Linked DNA regions of Homo sapiens. The protein of the gene in region 3 purifies or fractionates together with the protein of the main gene of each other region. This does not show direct contact. Each region holds a gene or a part of one and is shown on either strand. Other genes may lie near its edges.

What was found. The genes of interacting proteins can lie anywhere in the genome.
Region 1: the proteins of SLC39A4 (region 3) and FAR2 purify together in Homo sapiens (affinity purification with mass spectrometry; 4 studies listed by BioGRID and IntAct, with this or other methods). This does not show direct contact.
Region 2: the proteins of SLC39A4 (region 3) and MGAT5 purify together in Homo sapiens (affinity purification with mass spectrometry; 4 studies listed by BioGRID and IntAct, with this or other methods). This does not show direct contact.
Region 4: the proteins of SLC39A4 (region 3) and LEMD2 purify together in Homo sapiens (affinity purification with mass spectrometry; 5 studies listed by BioGRID and IntAct, with this or other methods). This does not show direct contact.

The regions. Positions count from the first base shown.
Region 1 is NC_000012.12:29,295,778-29,299,277, reverse strand, and holds part of FAR2 (fatty acyl-CoA reductase 2), read right to left. Parts: intron 2,258-3,500; coding exon 2,078-2,257; intron 1-2,077. UniProt on the Homo sapiens protein: Catalyzes the reduction of saturated but not unsaturated C16 or C18 fatty acyl-CoA to fatty alcohols (FAls). A lower activity can be observed with shorter fatty acyl-CoA substrates.
Region 2 is NC_000002.12:134,341,072-134,344,571, forward strand, and holds part of MGAT5 (alpha-1,6-mannosylglycoprotein 6-beta-N-acetylglucosaminyltransferase A), read left to right. Parts: intron 1-518; coding exon 519-688; intron 689-3,500. UniProt on the Homo sapiens protein: Catalyzes the addition of N-acetylglucosamine (GlcNAc) in beta 1-6 linkage to the alpha-linked mannose of biantennary N-linked oligosaccharides.
Region 3 is NC_000008.11:144,414,045-144,418,344, forward strand, and holds the start of SLC39A4 (zinc transporter ZIP4 isoform 2 precursor), read right to left. Parts: upstream 2,801-4,300; 5' UTR 2,746-2,800; coding exon 2,554-2,745; exon of another isoform or gene 2,165-2,553; coding exon of another isoform or gene 2,048-2,164; coding exon 1,766-2,047; exon of another isoform or gene 1,376-1,765; coding exon 1,183-1,375; exon of another isoform or gene 1,067-1,182; coding exon 930-1,066; exon of another isoform or gene 853-929; coding exon 681-852; exon of another isoform or gene 578-680; intron 391-577; coding exon 218-390; intron 52-217; coding exon 1-51. UniProt on the Homo sapiens protein: Selective transporter that mediates the uptake of Zn(2+). Plays an essential role for dietary zinc uptake from small intestine. The Zn(2+) uniporter activity is regulated by zinc availability.
Region 4 is NC_000006.12:33,782,631-33,786,130, reverse strand, and holds part of LEMD2 (LEM domain-containing protein 2), read left to right. Parts: intron 1-1,611; coding exon of another isoform or gene 1,612-1,638; exon of another isoform or gene 1,639-1,670; intron 1,671-1,703; coding exon 1,704-1,779; intron 1,780-3,500. UniProt on the Homo sapiens protein: Nuclear lamina-associated inner nuclear membrane protein that is involved in nuclear structure organization, maintenance of nuclear envelope (NE) integrity and NE reformation after mitosis.

The sequences.
Region 1 (3,500 bases), on a different chromosome or scaffold from region 3:
ACTATGGGTGAACTCTTACTTCTTTTCTTTTCTTTTTCTTTCTTTTTTTTTTTTTTTTTTTTTTGAGACAAAGTTTTGCTCTTGTTGACCAGGCTGGGGTGCAATGGTGCAATCTCAGCTCACTGCAACCTCCACCTCCTGGATTCAAGCAATTCTACTGCCTCAGCCTCCCAAGTAGCTGAGATTACAGGCATGTGCCACCACACCTAGCTAATTTTTTGTATTTAGTAGAGACAGGGTTTCACCATGTTGGTCAGGCTGGTCTCGAACTCCTGACCTCGGGTGATCCACCCACCTCGGCCTCCCAAAGTGCTGGGATTACAGGCATAAGCCAACACACCTGGCCTCTTACTTCTTTTCTCTGATGAACTCTCAGGCTCTTTTGCTACCTCAAATTGCACTATGACCTGTCAGGTGTTAGAGAGATCAGCAGTGGAGAAAGTCCCAGGAAACAATCTGGAATCAAAAGGGGTCTGCCCCTCTCCTGGACATATCAAATATGAAAACATCACATTTACCAAGAGACAACACCATAAGAGGGTAACTGACAGAAACCAATTCCATCCTGAAAATGCTCTGAGGCTTTAAACATACTTTATTGTCTAGACTTTGGGCCTCAGAATACACCTGCTTTTTCTCCCACTATCCTGATGAACTCTGCACTCTAAAATTTTTCTCTGTACCAATTTAGCAAACCTCCATTTATTAGCAACTTTAACCTCCAGATCCTTTAGATGACTTTCATTCTTCTTTGTCCTGGATATTTTTACATGACAGACAAAAATATCTATTCTCAGAGCTGGAGGAGATAAAAATGTTTGCCCTGAAGGTAATGAACTCTTGATTTAGCTAAAACTTTTTAAAGAGTATATATTAAATATAAATACAGTATTATATAAAATTATAATGTGACAAATTCATTGTGAAATAGTCCATTTTTCTGCTATAATACTTTTTATATAGTTTTTTACAAAAAAAAAAAACAAGGTAAACTTAGTAAAATGGAGCAGAAGAATAAAGAAGCAGAAAACAAACTTATTCTAAGACCTGAGCTGTGTTTTAAGATGAAAGTGGTTTCTGCTCATTGGCAAGAAGAGAAAAATCCTAGACATTATTTCTCTTGCATCCTAGGACAGTAAAGAAAGTGTGTCTCAGCCAAATAAGTCAAGAGACTGTCACCTTCTGCCAGATCTTGGAGCAATTCTTATTCTTCATTAGTTCTTTTTTTTTTTTTTTTTTTTGAGACGGAGTTTCACTCTTGTTGCCCAGGCTGGAGTGCAACGGCACAATCTCGGCTCATTGCAACCTCTGCCTCCCAGGTTCAAGCGATTCTCCCCAGGTTCAAGTGATTCTCCTGCCTCAGCCTCCCAAGTACCTGGGATTACAGGCGCCTGCCACCACATCCAGCTAATTTTTGTATTTTAGGCTGGTCTTGAACTCTTGGACTCAGGTGATCCACCCGCCTCAGCCTCCCAAAGTGCTGGGATTACAGGCGTGAGCCACCACCCCCAGCCTCTAGTTCTTTTTTATGAATTATTTGATTAAGTGCTGTTAAACACTCCCTAGCACTGCAATAAGTGTTTTATATAACTTTTTTCAACCTCACAACTATAAAATGGGCCCATTTTACAAATGAAGGACTTGGGGCTCAGAGAGGGCAAGGAATTTGCTCAGTCACACAGGTAGTTACTGGTGGAGCTATGCCAAACTCACGTCAGTCTGAATCAGACATTTTTCTTCTGAACTTTTATACTATACATTATACTTGCTTTATCCAGTGACAATGCTAAGTTCATTAAGAAGTGAGAAACAACTTCTATGTATAGTATTCCCAAGTACCTCATGCAATCCTACGCAATTCCACAAAATGTTTAAGAATTTTCTATCCCCCTTCTCTTTTAGCAGTATATTCCCCACCAGAACTAGCAGGGACAAGGTAGCTAAGGCTAGCACCGTTTCAAAACATTTTGCTTCAAAAGTGTTTGACTTCATCATCTCATTAATAGCTACAAAGAATCAAAGAGAACAAAGGAACTTATTCTACCCGCCCCTTGATCCTTTTATTAGACCAACTTACTCAAGGGAATCAATGATTTTTTTTGGCTCCACAGGGCACGGATAGATAACTTCATCGATGTGCTTCAGGTTACAATTTGAATAGGCAGTAGAGATATGTATAAAGGCTTCCAGCTTTGGCATCTGACTAGCCATAAGCAAGAGCTGCCGGGTGGCAGTGACGTTAAGTTGCACAGCATGTCTAGAGAAGATTAAGCAGAAGGAAATACAATGAAGTAAGTCAGTATCATGCCTTGCTATAACTGCACCTACTCCAATAACTGGCATACCTATCAGATTTTGGTGGCCGCACCAAAACACCAGGAAGAGAAGGATGGGTCATGGCTACACAGTTATGTGATACTCGGAATGTTTTATGTAGTGATGATGTGTTTTGTGCACATAAATCCTATTCACTGACACACTGTACATATATCTAGAGGACAATTGGTTCTAATCAACCGGAAAAAGAATTACAATACTCTGAATTTATAAAGGTGCTTCTATAGGCAGCCATTAAAAGAACACAAACATGTAAATTAAGCATCTAACTGAAGAAGTTGGAAAATGTAAATAAACTGGAGGGGAGCAACAGTACATTTTTTAAAGGAGCAATGTAAGTTGCTCTTGTAAAGATCCAGGCAAGACATGAAAATTGATGTCAAAATCTAAAATTGCAGCTAGTAGAATGCAAAGCTATATAAACAGTATGTGATAACAATGAAATAGTTCATTCCAGGAATACATGGTTTATCAAATACCAGGAAACTTACTAATTTAATTTAACTCAAATGAGAAAAACTATATAAGAATCTATATGTATTTTGAAAAGTTTAAAATGACATTTAATTTCCATTTCCAATTTAGTTAAACAAATTCACTAGAACTGGTGAAAAGCTAGGAGCACTGCTTGTAACGTCAGTGGTAGGAATAATGCCTACAATCACACTACTACTTAACATTGTTCTGAAGTCCTAGCCTTGGAATTAATTAGAAAAATAAAATTAAAGAACAGATATAGATACTAAAAAGACAGCCACAAAAATTACTGTCGGATTATATAATTGCATACATGGAAAACAGAAGCAGCTTTTTAAAAAAACTGAAATGTACTATAATTCAGTAAGGTGTCCACTGATAAAAATTACGTTAAAAGGCCGGGCGCGGTGGCTCACGCCTGTAATCCCAGCACTTTGGGAGGCCGAGGCGGGTGGATCATGAGGTCAGGAGATCGAGACCATCCTGGCTAACAAGGTGAAACCCCGTCTCTACTAAAAATACAAAAAATTAGCCGGGCGCGGTGGCGGGCGCCTGTAGTCCCAGCTACTCGGGAGGCTGAGGCAGGAGAATGGCGTGAACCCGGGAAGCGGAGCTTGCAGTGAGCCGAGATTGCGCCACTGCAGTCCGCAGTCCGGCCTGGGCGACAGAGCGAGACTCCGTCTCAA
Region 2 (3,500 bases), on a different chromosome or scaffold from region 3:
ATATGTCTAGAATTTGTTTTGAGATAATCTAGAGGGGTTGGGAGAAAATGGGGGTATAGATTAAATATGCATTAATAATTGTTGAAGCTACACAGTAATTACTTTGGCATTGACTATATTGTCATGTTTGCCTTTCCATGTGTTTGAAATTTTCCATGGTAAGAGGTTAGAAGTATTTTAGCTGTAGATAAAAGACCAATAGTGTTAGAAAATACTGTCCTGTCTTACCTTCCTTTAATCCCGATTTTACAAATACACTGTGCTTTTAAAAGGTGGAATTATCTGTCCATACCTTGTACTCATAGCCATACCAAGGGCTGCAGTGATTTTGTTTCTCTAAAACCACAATGAAAAATGATTTCCTTCCTTTGTACCTTCTAGAAAAACAGCATTCCCCACCCTTTGATTTTGTTAGGATGTAAACATGACTTTGGGATTGGTCAATCATTTCTTGGCGCATTACTGTGCCTTTTGTATGTGGTTCAGTGTGAATCAGTATATGCCTCTTTGTTTTCCAGGTCCTCGTTCACCTGGGACTCCTGACCAAGGAATCTGGATTTAAGATTGCAGAGACAGCTTTCAGTGGTGGCCCTCTTGGTGAATTAGTTCAATGGAGTGATTTAATTACATCTCTGTACTTACTGGGCCATGACATTAGGATTTCAGCTTCACTGGCTGAGCTCAAGGAGTAAGGAGATTACTTTTCAATTTTAAAATCAGAATACAAAAAAGAAATTGTAAACTCTTAAAGTATTACCTCTATTAGTGTATAATTTTTTGTCGAGGAAAATGAAAGTGATAATTCACTAAACAGGAGATAAGAAGATTATTTTCAGGAGCTAAATACATACACTGTGAAAAGGATAATATGTTTTCATTGTCGCTGAAGGCTCCAGAGGCTTCATAAATGAATGCCAGAAAATTCAAACTAAGGAGCTTATTCTTTGCTATTACAGGTGCTTCCAACATCTGGAGCACAAAACATTATTGACTTTCCTAATTCCCTGTCTCTTGCTGAAATTCATACCACTGCCTACTCAACATCAATCTTGCTAAATCTTGAAACAGGGCAGGTTCCTGTTTGTAATTCAATTTGGATAGAATAAATTTCCTGAAAGCCCTGAGCTGATCCTTTTTCAATTAGCCAACTTTCAGCTGAGTCTGTTAACTCTACTTGGGTTTTTCATTTCACTGAAATTTGCTTCTAGCTCCAGCCCTCCTGTAATCCCTTCTATATTGGCATAGCTGGCTGAGCAGGGACGCTTCCATCCCCTGCAGTCACTTAGGATTACTGCCCATGGAGACTTCCCACCCAACAGTCAAGTTGCCATGTTGCTATATGTCGTATATTTCCAGAAGGAATACCTTGAATGAACATTCTAGAGCTCATTGAGATGAGAGACATGTTAAAACAATATATGGTGGCTCCCAGCACTTCGGGAGGCCAAGGTAGGTAGATCACTTGAGGCCAGGGGTTCAAGAACAACCTGGCCAACATGGTGAGACCCTGTCTGTACTAAAAATACAAGAATTAACCGGGTGTGGTGGCCCATGCCTGTAGTCCCATCTACTCGAGAGGCAGAGGCTGCAGTGAGCCGAGATCATGCCACTGCACTCCAGCCTGAGTGACAGAGCAAGTCTCTGTCTTAAAAAAAAAAAAAAAAAATTGGATACACAACCTACAAAGTGGCTGCATTTATACAGTTAGCAGTCACTCATCTGGTGTCTTCTGTAGGCTAGTTTTGGTGTCGGGCATACAGAGATGGCCAGCTTGTGGTCAAAGATCTTGCTGCCAATCTTTTGATAATTACAACTAATATATTAAAAATAATTACACAAATTCCAATTCTATTGGTGCTAATTGAGGTGTACGTGGATGCTAGAATGTAAGCACTGGGATTGCAGAAAACTGAGTATCGTTTGTCACTGTGTAGTGGGCACCTAGATAGTGCCTAGCAAGTAATGAGTACTCACATAACTATTTATAGAATGAATGAGTGAAGGAATAAATAGGTGAATGAATGAGTGGGTAGGTAAATAAATGGAGTGCTGTGGTAGAACCAGGGACAAGTACTGCCTGGGGAGGTCAGGAAAGACATGTTAGGGATTTATCAGTCAGAGACTGAATTTGATGGTCAAGGGAAAATTTGTTCAGTATGTCCTCACTTAACATCGTTGATAGGTTCTTGGAAACTAGGACTATAAATGAAATTATGTAAAATGAAACCAATTTTTTTCATCAACATTATAACCAGTGATTTGAAGGAAATGACTTTATTGGAGGGCCTGCTATCTGTTGTTTTGTTTAAAGTCCCAGTTTTCAGGAACCTATTGATGATGTTAAGTGAGGACTTAATTCTAGTAGTCTTTATGCACACTGGGGTCAGGGCTAGATGTGTTTTGTTTAAGAAGATAATTGTGGAAGCAGTATAGAGCAGTGGTCTTTAAATATATCTGTACGTTAGAACCACCTGGAGATCTTTGTATTTATTTCTTAATTTTGGGGGATCTTTTAAAAATCCCATAGACCATGCCATAGGCTAATTAGATCACAACCCTTGGGGGTAGGACACAGCCATAAGTATTTTGTGATGCCTCCAGGTAATTTCATTATACAGACAAGTTTGGGAAACACTGAACATGGGGTGGACCAGAGATCAGCAAACTATGGCTCAGCAGGCCAAATCAGCCCTCTGTCTTTTTTTGTAAATACAGTTTCATGGGAACACAGCCATGCCTATTGTTTACGTATCATATATAGCTGTCTTCATTCCACAACGGGAGAATGGGCCAGTTGTGACTGAAAATGTATGGCCTGCAAAGATGAAGATAATCACTGTCTGGCCCTTAACAGAAAGGGTTTTCTGACTCTTGGGAGGAAACTGGTTCTGCAGAACCTAGTTCTTTCATAAACAGGGGAGAGGAAGAAGGGTGGCTGATGTGGTGGTAGTACAGAGCTGTCAAGCAGAGTCCTGTTTGTGACTCTCGTCCTTTGAAGCAGGATATCCATAATTTGGTGAAGGATTATCATGGGGTGTTGCAGATAAGCAACAGTGGTGACTGATTAGTGAGTGGATGGCAGTAGGGTTAGCACTGACTCGTTCCTACACATGAAGTTGGCCTACCAATCAAGTACATCGTCACGCTCTGAGCGCAAGTATGGTTTTGTGTGGATGGATGCATGGGTGGGGGAAAGGGTGATTAAAAAAAACTGTAAACCATAGTGCTAGTTCTGTAATATGGTCAAGCGAGGAGGAAAAATTTGACATAAGAGAAAAAGTTAAGGAACAGTATGAGGCAGGTAGAAAGAAGTTAATACTATAGAGGCTAGAAATTGAAGACATTTAGAAAAAGGGGAGGGGAAGGTTAGTAAGGGTGCTAAGCGGTAAGAACAGGCTCTGGGGGAGAAAACTAAGTTATTGAGTATCTAGTATTCATTAGGCACTTTCTTTTCAATATCTCATTGTGAAGAACCCCTGAGAGACTGGTATCCAATGTTC
Region 3 (4,300 bases):
GGTGGGCTGTGGGCTGAGGCCCTCTTCGCTGTGTGTATGCAGCCCCAGCACCTGGGGAGTAGGGGCGCTGGGCTGGGGGGGAGGTCCCAGGGCGCCTCCCACCAAGACCCAGGGAGAGGGGTCAGGAGGTGGGGTGGGTAAGGTCCCTGGGAGGGCACGGCCTGGGAGTCCATGGTGGGGAACGGAGGGCCAGGGTCGCGGGTTTGTGGGGGCAGACCTTGGGCGTCAGATGCAGGACAGCGTCCCCAGTGACTGCACCCACTGCCAGGCTCAGGAAGGTCTGCAGGATGTAGTGGGTGACCCCCCTGCAGCCAGTGCAGGTCAGCAGCAGGAGGCCAAAGACCGCGCAGAGGCAGATGAGCAGCGTGGCCAGGGAGCCGTACAGATACCCTGGGGGCGGGTGAGGCGGCTGTGAGAGCTTTTCTTCCAGACTCAGCCCCTGCTTCCCGGGCGCTGCTCACCAGAGCTGCAGGCCGTCAGTGTGGGCCAGGCCCTCACTCAGGCTGACCCTCCTGCCTCAAAGCCCCACTCTCCTGGCGACGCCACCTTCCCCTGTGTCTGTTGTTTCTACTTCCAGCCCCTGCTCACTCTCTCCATCCCTCATCCTGGGCAGCCACTCCTTCCTTCCTACACGGGCTCCACCTCTGTGCTGCCAGCACAATGTCGGCGTGGGCACTCACTCTCTGACTGGCTGAGCTGGTCCTGGACGGGGGGCCTGGACTGGGAGGTGCAGGCTCCACTCAGCTGCTGTTGGAGCAGGGCAGGGCTCAGTTGGGCCCAGGCCTCCGGGGTCACCCCAGCCTGTTCCGACAGTCCATATGCAGCCATCACGTCCCTGGCACTCAGGCATACCTGGGGGGTGGCAGGACAGGCTCAGGGGCCCAAGCAGACCCCGGTGAGGCCCCATCTTACCCCAGGGCGCAGCTCACCGTGTCCCACACACTGGAGCTGTTGCTGGAGCTGATGAGGGGCACAGGGTCCCGGCTGCTGGCTCCCCTGTGCCGATGACTGTGGTCACTGTGGGCCTCCCTGCCCACCCCCAGGCGCTGCATCAAGGCTGACAGCTCTGGCAGGGAGAAGAGTTGGCACCGCGAGTCTGTGTGGGCTCCGGCCCTGCCCCCCAGGGACGTGGAGGCTGGGGACTCGGGGGTGCCCCCCTCCACAGCCCAGCCCAGGCCTCACCGGCCAGCGTCATAGGGACCTCGCTGCTGTGCTGCTGGAACACAAAGTCCACGAAGTACTGAGGGCTCGGCAAGGCGTGGAAGCAAGACCCGCTCCTGACATGGTCCAGCAGGGCAGCCAGGACGCCGCCAGCACTGCCCGGAGCCCCCGCCCCCACCGCCTCCTCCAGCAGCTGAGGGATATCTACGCAGGCCTGGGGAAGAGGGGGCCTCCGCCTCAGCCTTTGGTGTGACCTTCTGCCATCCACCCCGCTGCCCCTGGATGCATCTCCCACCCCAACTACAGGATCTGCCCCCACCAGCCCCGCCCCTCCCTGGAGCCACAGCCCTCCCTGCCGGGCCCAGCTGCTTCAGGCTCCCACTCAGGCCTCTGGGTTCCTCCCTCATGAGGTCCCTCCCGGGGCTCCTACAGGCTCCCAACTGCCCAGTAGTGAGCCCCACGTTGTGAATCCCCAGCCGCAGGCCGACTCCTGGGCGTCTCCCCAGGCCCCCAGGCTCCCCGAAGGCTTTGCAGCCAGGCCGGGTCCCATGGGCCGTGGGACCCTCCTCACCCACTCCCCTGGTCTGCCTGGACTCTCCCTCACCATCTTGGGGGTCTGGCCGGCAGCCCGGGCCTGCATCCTCTGCAGCAGCCAGCTCAGGCCCGGGGTCAGGGCCTTGGGGCTCTCGAGCAGGGCCAGGAGGTGGTCTGCATGAGAGGCCCAGAGGCCAGCCCGAGCGTCCTCACAGGTGCCCTCGGGGTTGCTGAGGTACAGGACGGCGGCGGCACTGAGGCGGGCGACGTACCTGGCCTCCAGGACCGGGCCCGGGGGCAGCCCTGACCCCTCAGGCTCGCCCAGGCCCAGGGCGTCCTCCACAGACAGGCACTGTGGGCAGAGACAAGTGAGCAGGGGCGCTGGGCCCACCAGGGAGGGGAGAGGCAGGCCTGGCCAGGGGCTTCCCCGAGGGCCTGTTTCCCTTTCAAGTCCAACAACGTCCACCATCCTCTCTCAACCCCTGGCGCCCTTCCGTCTCCCCAGGCCCCTGTCCTGCTTCCCCAACTACAGGGGTGCACGCAGAGGGGTCCCCAACAGTGGTCCCCCATCCCCAGGGGACTCCCCTGGAGCCACTGCCAATTTGATGGCAGAGGGCCGGCAGGGGGAGTTGGCCCTGGGGTCCTGGGGAGAAGAGGGACTGTGTCCCTGGAAAGGCCTGTCTGCCCTCATGAGCAGGAGGGTGGGCTCTGGCCTGTGGGGAGGGTCAGGGTGCCCAGGTACTGCCACTAGCCTCCTCCGCCTCCTGGAGTTTGCCCAGGGCCCTTTGCTGCCGGCTGGCAGGGCGGAGCTGGCGGGAAGAGGCCAGGGCTGGGGGACCCGTCGGGTGGGGCTGTTACCTTTCCACACGGCCCGTTGGCGCAGTGCACACGGTCCGCCAGCGTATTTAACAGGCCGCCCAGAGCCTCTTGATCCAGAGCGCCCTGGCCAGAGGTGAGCAGGCTCAGCAGACCAGCAGGCGGGGACGCCGTCGCCGTCACCACCAGCACAGCCAGAAGCAGCCCCAGCTCCAGCGAGACCAGGGACGCCATACTCAGCTCCCAGCGTGCTCAGTGGGTGTTGCTGTGGCCAAGGCCCAGTGCTTCTGGGCTGGCTGAGGGCGGCTTTGCTGGGGTTGTCCAGGGCCAGACTGGGGCTGGGCTAGGACCCGCCCGGGCTGCATGAGGACCTCTCCCAGGTATTCCTGCAGAGCTCTGTGATTGGCTGCTGGAGATGCCTGGGTTAACCATTCCAGTGGCAGATCCTCCCCAACAGCCTGGAGCCACTGCCTGTGGGGGTCGAGGGCTGGGCCCCTTCCCCTGGACAGGCAGCCTCGGTGGTCTTTTTTTTTTCGAGTTGGAGTTTTGCTCTTGCTGCCCAGGCTGGAGTGCAATGGCGTGATCTTGGCTCACGGCAACCTCCGCCTCCCGGGTTCAAGTGCTTCTCCTGCCTCAGCCTCCCGAGTAGCTGGGATTACAGGCAGCGCCACCACGCCCGGTTACTTTTGTATTTTTAGTAGAGACAGTGTTTCTCCATGTTGGTCAGGCTGGTCTTGAACTCCCAACCTCAGGTGATTCGCCCGCCTTGGCCTCCCAAAGTGCTGGGATTACCGGCGTGGCTCACCACGCCAGGCCAGCCTGGGTGGGCTTCTGTCCTCTGCCTGCTGCCCCCCAAGCTGTGGGGCAGGGCTGGGGTGTCCCCTTCTGGCTGTCCATCTGGGGGCTGCCTCCAAGCTGGGGGACACAGGGCAGAGGTGCACAGATGCCCCCAGAGCCTGAGAGCTCCCAGGTCCCTGCCTCTGCCCCTCCCAACAGAGGCTGCCCAGACACCCTCGGTGGCCCCTGTTGGGGGTGGGGACATGGACCTCCCTCCTCCTGGGTCCTGGGCTGTGGTCCCTGTTGGGGACTGCGATGGAGTCAAAGAAACTGAAAAGGTGCCTGCTGCATCATGCTCCCTTAGGCCGGAGACAGCCCCAGGAAGCTCCAACACAGACAAACAGGAAGACGGAGCTGGGCCCTGGCAGCCACCTGGCCGAGCTTGGGTCAGGATAAGATTGGGGCAAGACCCCAGCTCTAGCCCCGGGGGCAGGGAGGCTGTGGCTCCCAGCCCTGCCCTCTCTGTGGGCTCCCTCTCTGGCCTTTGAGCCTAGAGGCCTTATCTCTACCGTGGTGGTGATGGCAGGAAGTCTGGGGGAAGGGGAAGGCAGATCTCAGGGCAGCTTTGCCTTCTGAAGGGGGAGTCCAGATGCCACCTCCCGCCCGGTCCAGCCAGCCTGACCCTGAGCATTGTGGGTGGGGCTGGGGTGGGGAGCTGGGTGCCTGAGGCCCAAGGACTCTGTCCCGCCATACACAGGGTGGGACGGGGCAGGGCGGGCATTGAGCCCAGTGTCCTGGGGTCAGGGTGCTTCCCCTGCCGGCCTCACCCCACCAAGCGGATCTCATGGTGCTCCTCTGGCTGGGCCCACCCGCAGTGGTATCCTTCTGGGGGCCCTTAGGGGAGCCTGCCGGGGGTGCAGATCCTGCCGGGGGTGCAGAGCCTGCTGGGGGTGCAGATGATTTCTGGGTCCCAGGACCATGAGGGGGCTGCTCTACACACAGCCTGAAGATG
Region 4 (3,500 bases), on a different chromosome or scaffold from region 3:
AGAAGATATGGGGCAGTAAATTTTCAGGTCTTAAATTGTACCAGGAGGAGTCTTGTGCTGCCAGAGGGCATGACTTAGTAGTCTAATTAAGTGTGCAATGCCTGGCCTCCCAAGTCCTTAGTTAACATCTCTAGTAGCCCAGGGGCTGGGAAAGAAAATGACGCATGGTCCTCTGGCCAGCCCTGCATTGACTGTCTTACTCATGTAAATGAGGGGGCATCCTGGTGCAGATAACGGCTTTTATTTCTCTTTGGCTTCGGGTGTGTCATAGTTGGGGGTGTTTTATTACATCCATTTATTGGATTCATCCACCAAATATCTTTGCTTCCCAATTGTTTTGTAAAAACAGATTCATAGTAAGTTTAATCTGCCTTCTATCATAAAAACTGTAGTTGATGATGAGAGGAAGTGGCCCAGAAACACAGGCAGCCAGAGGGGAAACTGGAATTTGAAGACTTAAAACAAAAACAGGAAAAAATAACTTTCTGTAAGACTTCTCAGTGCTGTTAGTTTTGTCTTTTAATTAGAAAAAAGTTCCATGGTTTCTATTTCTTGGTCCTTCACATCTCTAAATGAATCAGACCCACAAGTGAATGGCACATTTGTTCCCTGGCCTTCTCTGATCTGGACACACTCAGGCTCCACTTGAGTGAGCCCAGACAGGTACCCTCCAGGTCCTAGCTACAGATGCGCTCCGTGGGCAGACGGCATTCAGCACCTGCCAGCGAGGGCTTCAGACGCAGATATCCCTATTTGTAACCATTCAGACCTTCATCAGAGCATCAGAAAGCAGGGGCTGGGCCATCTCAATGCAGGCTTTGTGGAGCTAAGATTTCATGGGGCACCCTTGGCCTTTCTGGAGGGTGGACACAGGAACAAGCAGGTGGGGACGTGTTTCTTGGCTTTGGTGAGGCTCTTGCTGAAAGTCTTATTCTTTGCATGGCTCCAGGCTTACCGAGATCACAGACGGGCATTTGAATTTCAGATTCATGTTCTTTCCCTTTTCGGTCGTTGAAGACGGTGACACTTTGTGTTTTTCTTTCTGCCTTTGTGCTGCTGAAAACGTGGGGACAGGCTGGGAGTGGGTGTGTTGTCTTAATCAGGCCGTCTCGTTGTCTGGTACCGTCTGTCCTCCTGTTTCCTTTAGGTGGTAGCAGCCTCTGCTGAGTGGTTTGTGTGAGTTCGCACTGAATCCTACCACAATCCTTACTCAGATGAGGGCTCTGAGATTCCACCTAACGGGAGACGAGATGGCAGCTGCTGACATTCTGCCCTGTCTGCAAGCTCTCCTAGCTCTTCCAGCTCTCCCATCTCTGCAAACTCCGACAGCAGTTGCTCTTCCTCTGAGGAAGCTGAGCGACTGCATCATCCCCCGACCACGTCGCCTCTGCTCAGCCCTCTTAATGGCCGTCATTCCAAGGGAAAGGCAGGAGCCAGGAGCCTCTGGGATGCAGCCCCTTGGTTACAGTGTCTGCTTTCAGCTTTGCCTCTGCTTCTCCAGGGTCTTTCTCAGGCAGTTAACCCAATATTTATCAACTCTCTCCCTAGGCCCAGCACTTGGCAGAATTTTTTTCTATTTTGTAAAAGTATGAGATATTCCTTGCTGTTTAGTATTTGACAGTGTGGCTGGAGAAGTAAAGATGGACAGACGGACCCCTCCCACCCACCCCTCCTTGCTGACCACTTGTCCCGTGCCTTTCCAGTTCTGTCAGGCCAAGCAGAAGGCAGCCTTGCTGGAGCTGCTGCATGAACTCTACAATTTCCTGGCCATCCAAGCTGGTGAGTAAGTCACGTAAGTCCTGAGATTCCTCTTGTGAGAGCTATGGGCGGCTGACCCGGTTCATCAGGCTTAGTTACACTGCTGCTGGCCAGCGAGACACTCCCTGGTTGTCTCTCAGAAGGCATATTCAGAAGCCGAGTCTCACCTTCTCGCCTCCTCACTCAGGCACATCTTTTATAAGCCTTGTGTTTGAACAAAACATATTTGATTCTTGCTCCTCTTTAAGGGAGGTCCTGGCATGTGAACAGGCCTTCCTGCAGCTGTTCTTCCTTCTTGGGGATGCCCACTACCTAATGCTTTGGGGGTCTCTGTTGGCATGGGAAGGGGCCAAGCCCCAGGTGTTGTCAGGATCTGTGTCCTTCACCCTAGAGGGACCCTCTGAACCAGGTGGTTGGCTGGGCCCGGGAGAGGCCTCTTGCCTGTGCAAGTAGCAGATAGTCTGTGTAGTGGGCCCTGGTGTCACATCTGGTCCTGATCACCATGTGGCTGTGGGACCTCGGACAAAGTCCCTGATCCTCTCAGGGTCTTCATCTCCCTGTCTGACCAAGGGCTCTTGGGTCTGTCTGTTCTCTACAAATGAGAGTCAAGTGCTGTCCTCTAAAGGAGGGCATTCTCAGCACCTCTGTGAAATGCCCCTGAAAATGCATCCAGAAGATGCATCCCCTACTGTTTTATTTGGTGAAGTTATTCCTTGAGGCCAGAGATACCACCTGCATTATTATGTCCTGCCCGACGCCTGGCATCCAGGAGGCTCTCAAAATCACTTGCAGTTGACATAGGTGAATATCAGCATGTGCGCCTTGTGTTAAATGCGCTGGACACAAGAACCAGACAGAGCAGTTCTATCTTAAGGGATATTCAAGAGGCGCCTCTTACCTGTGGGGTCAGAGGACAGGTCTTAGGATTGTGAGGTCAACCCTTGTCTAAGGTTTCACTGGGAAATTAGGGTCGGGTGGACTTCTCCTGGGCCCTCAGTCCTCAGGGTCAATCTCATGAGCATCAGCTCTTCTGCCTCCTCCCTCTTGAAAGTGAGAGATGAGATGGTAGGGGAGGCATCCATGAGCACTTGGAGGAGAAACAGGTACTGGGGCTCCTGCTCACAGCATCATAGGAATTCCTCTGTACGGCCCAGGTGCTTGGGATGTCAATTCTGACCTAAGAGAGTGTTCCAAACCTTTGTGTCTCAAATGTGGTCCAAGGACCCATAGCATCTGCATCACGTGGGAGCTCACTAGAAATTCAGAATCTCAGGTCTCATGCCAAACCCAGTGAATCAGAGTCTGTATCTTAAGATCCCCAGGGGATTTGAGTGCACCCTAAAGTTGAGAAGCACTGCTCGAAATTGGGTCCTAGTAGATATTTCTCCTCCATCCTACCCTCCATATGTGGTCTTGCCTTATGCCCTCAAGGGCCCTGGCACCTGTTGCCCTCCGACAAGCCTGGGGGGCCGCCTTGAAGGTACATATCTCATTGAGACAGGAGTGTGCCTCACAGAGGCTCCCTAGTAGTCCTCAACCCCTTCCATGCCTCTCCTGTTAGGGATCCGCTGTGGGCTGGGCACTGTGCAGGCCCTTGCAGTGAGATGACTCAGCTCCAGGTCCTGCCTGCAGGGCCCAACCCCGGCTTGGGGTCTACTGGAAGAGACAGGCCACCTACCTCCCTGACCACTGGGTGATATAAAATGTGATTAGACAAGAACCAAGAGGCCAGAAGTTCTGGG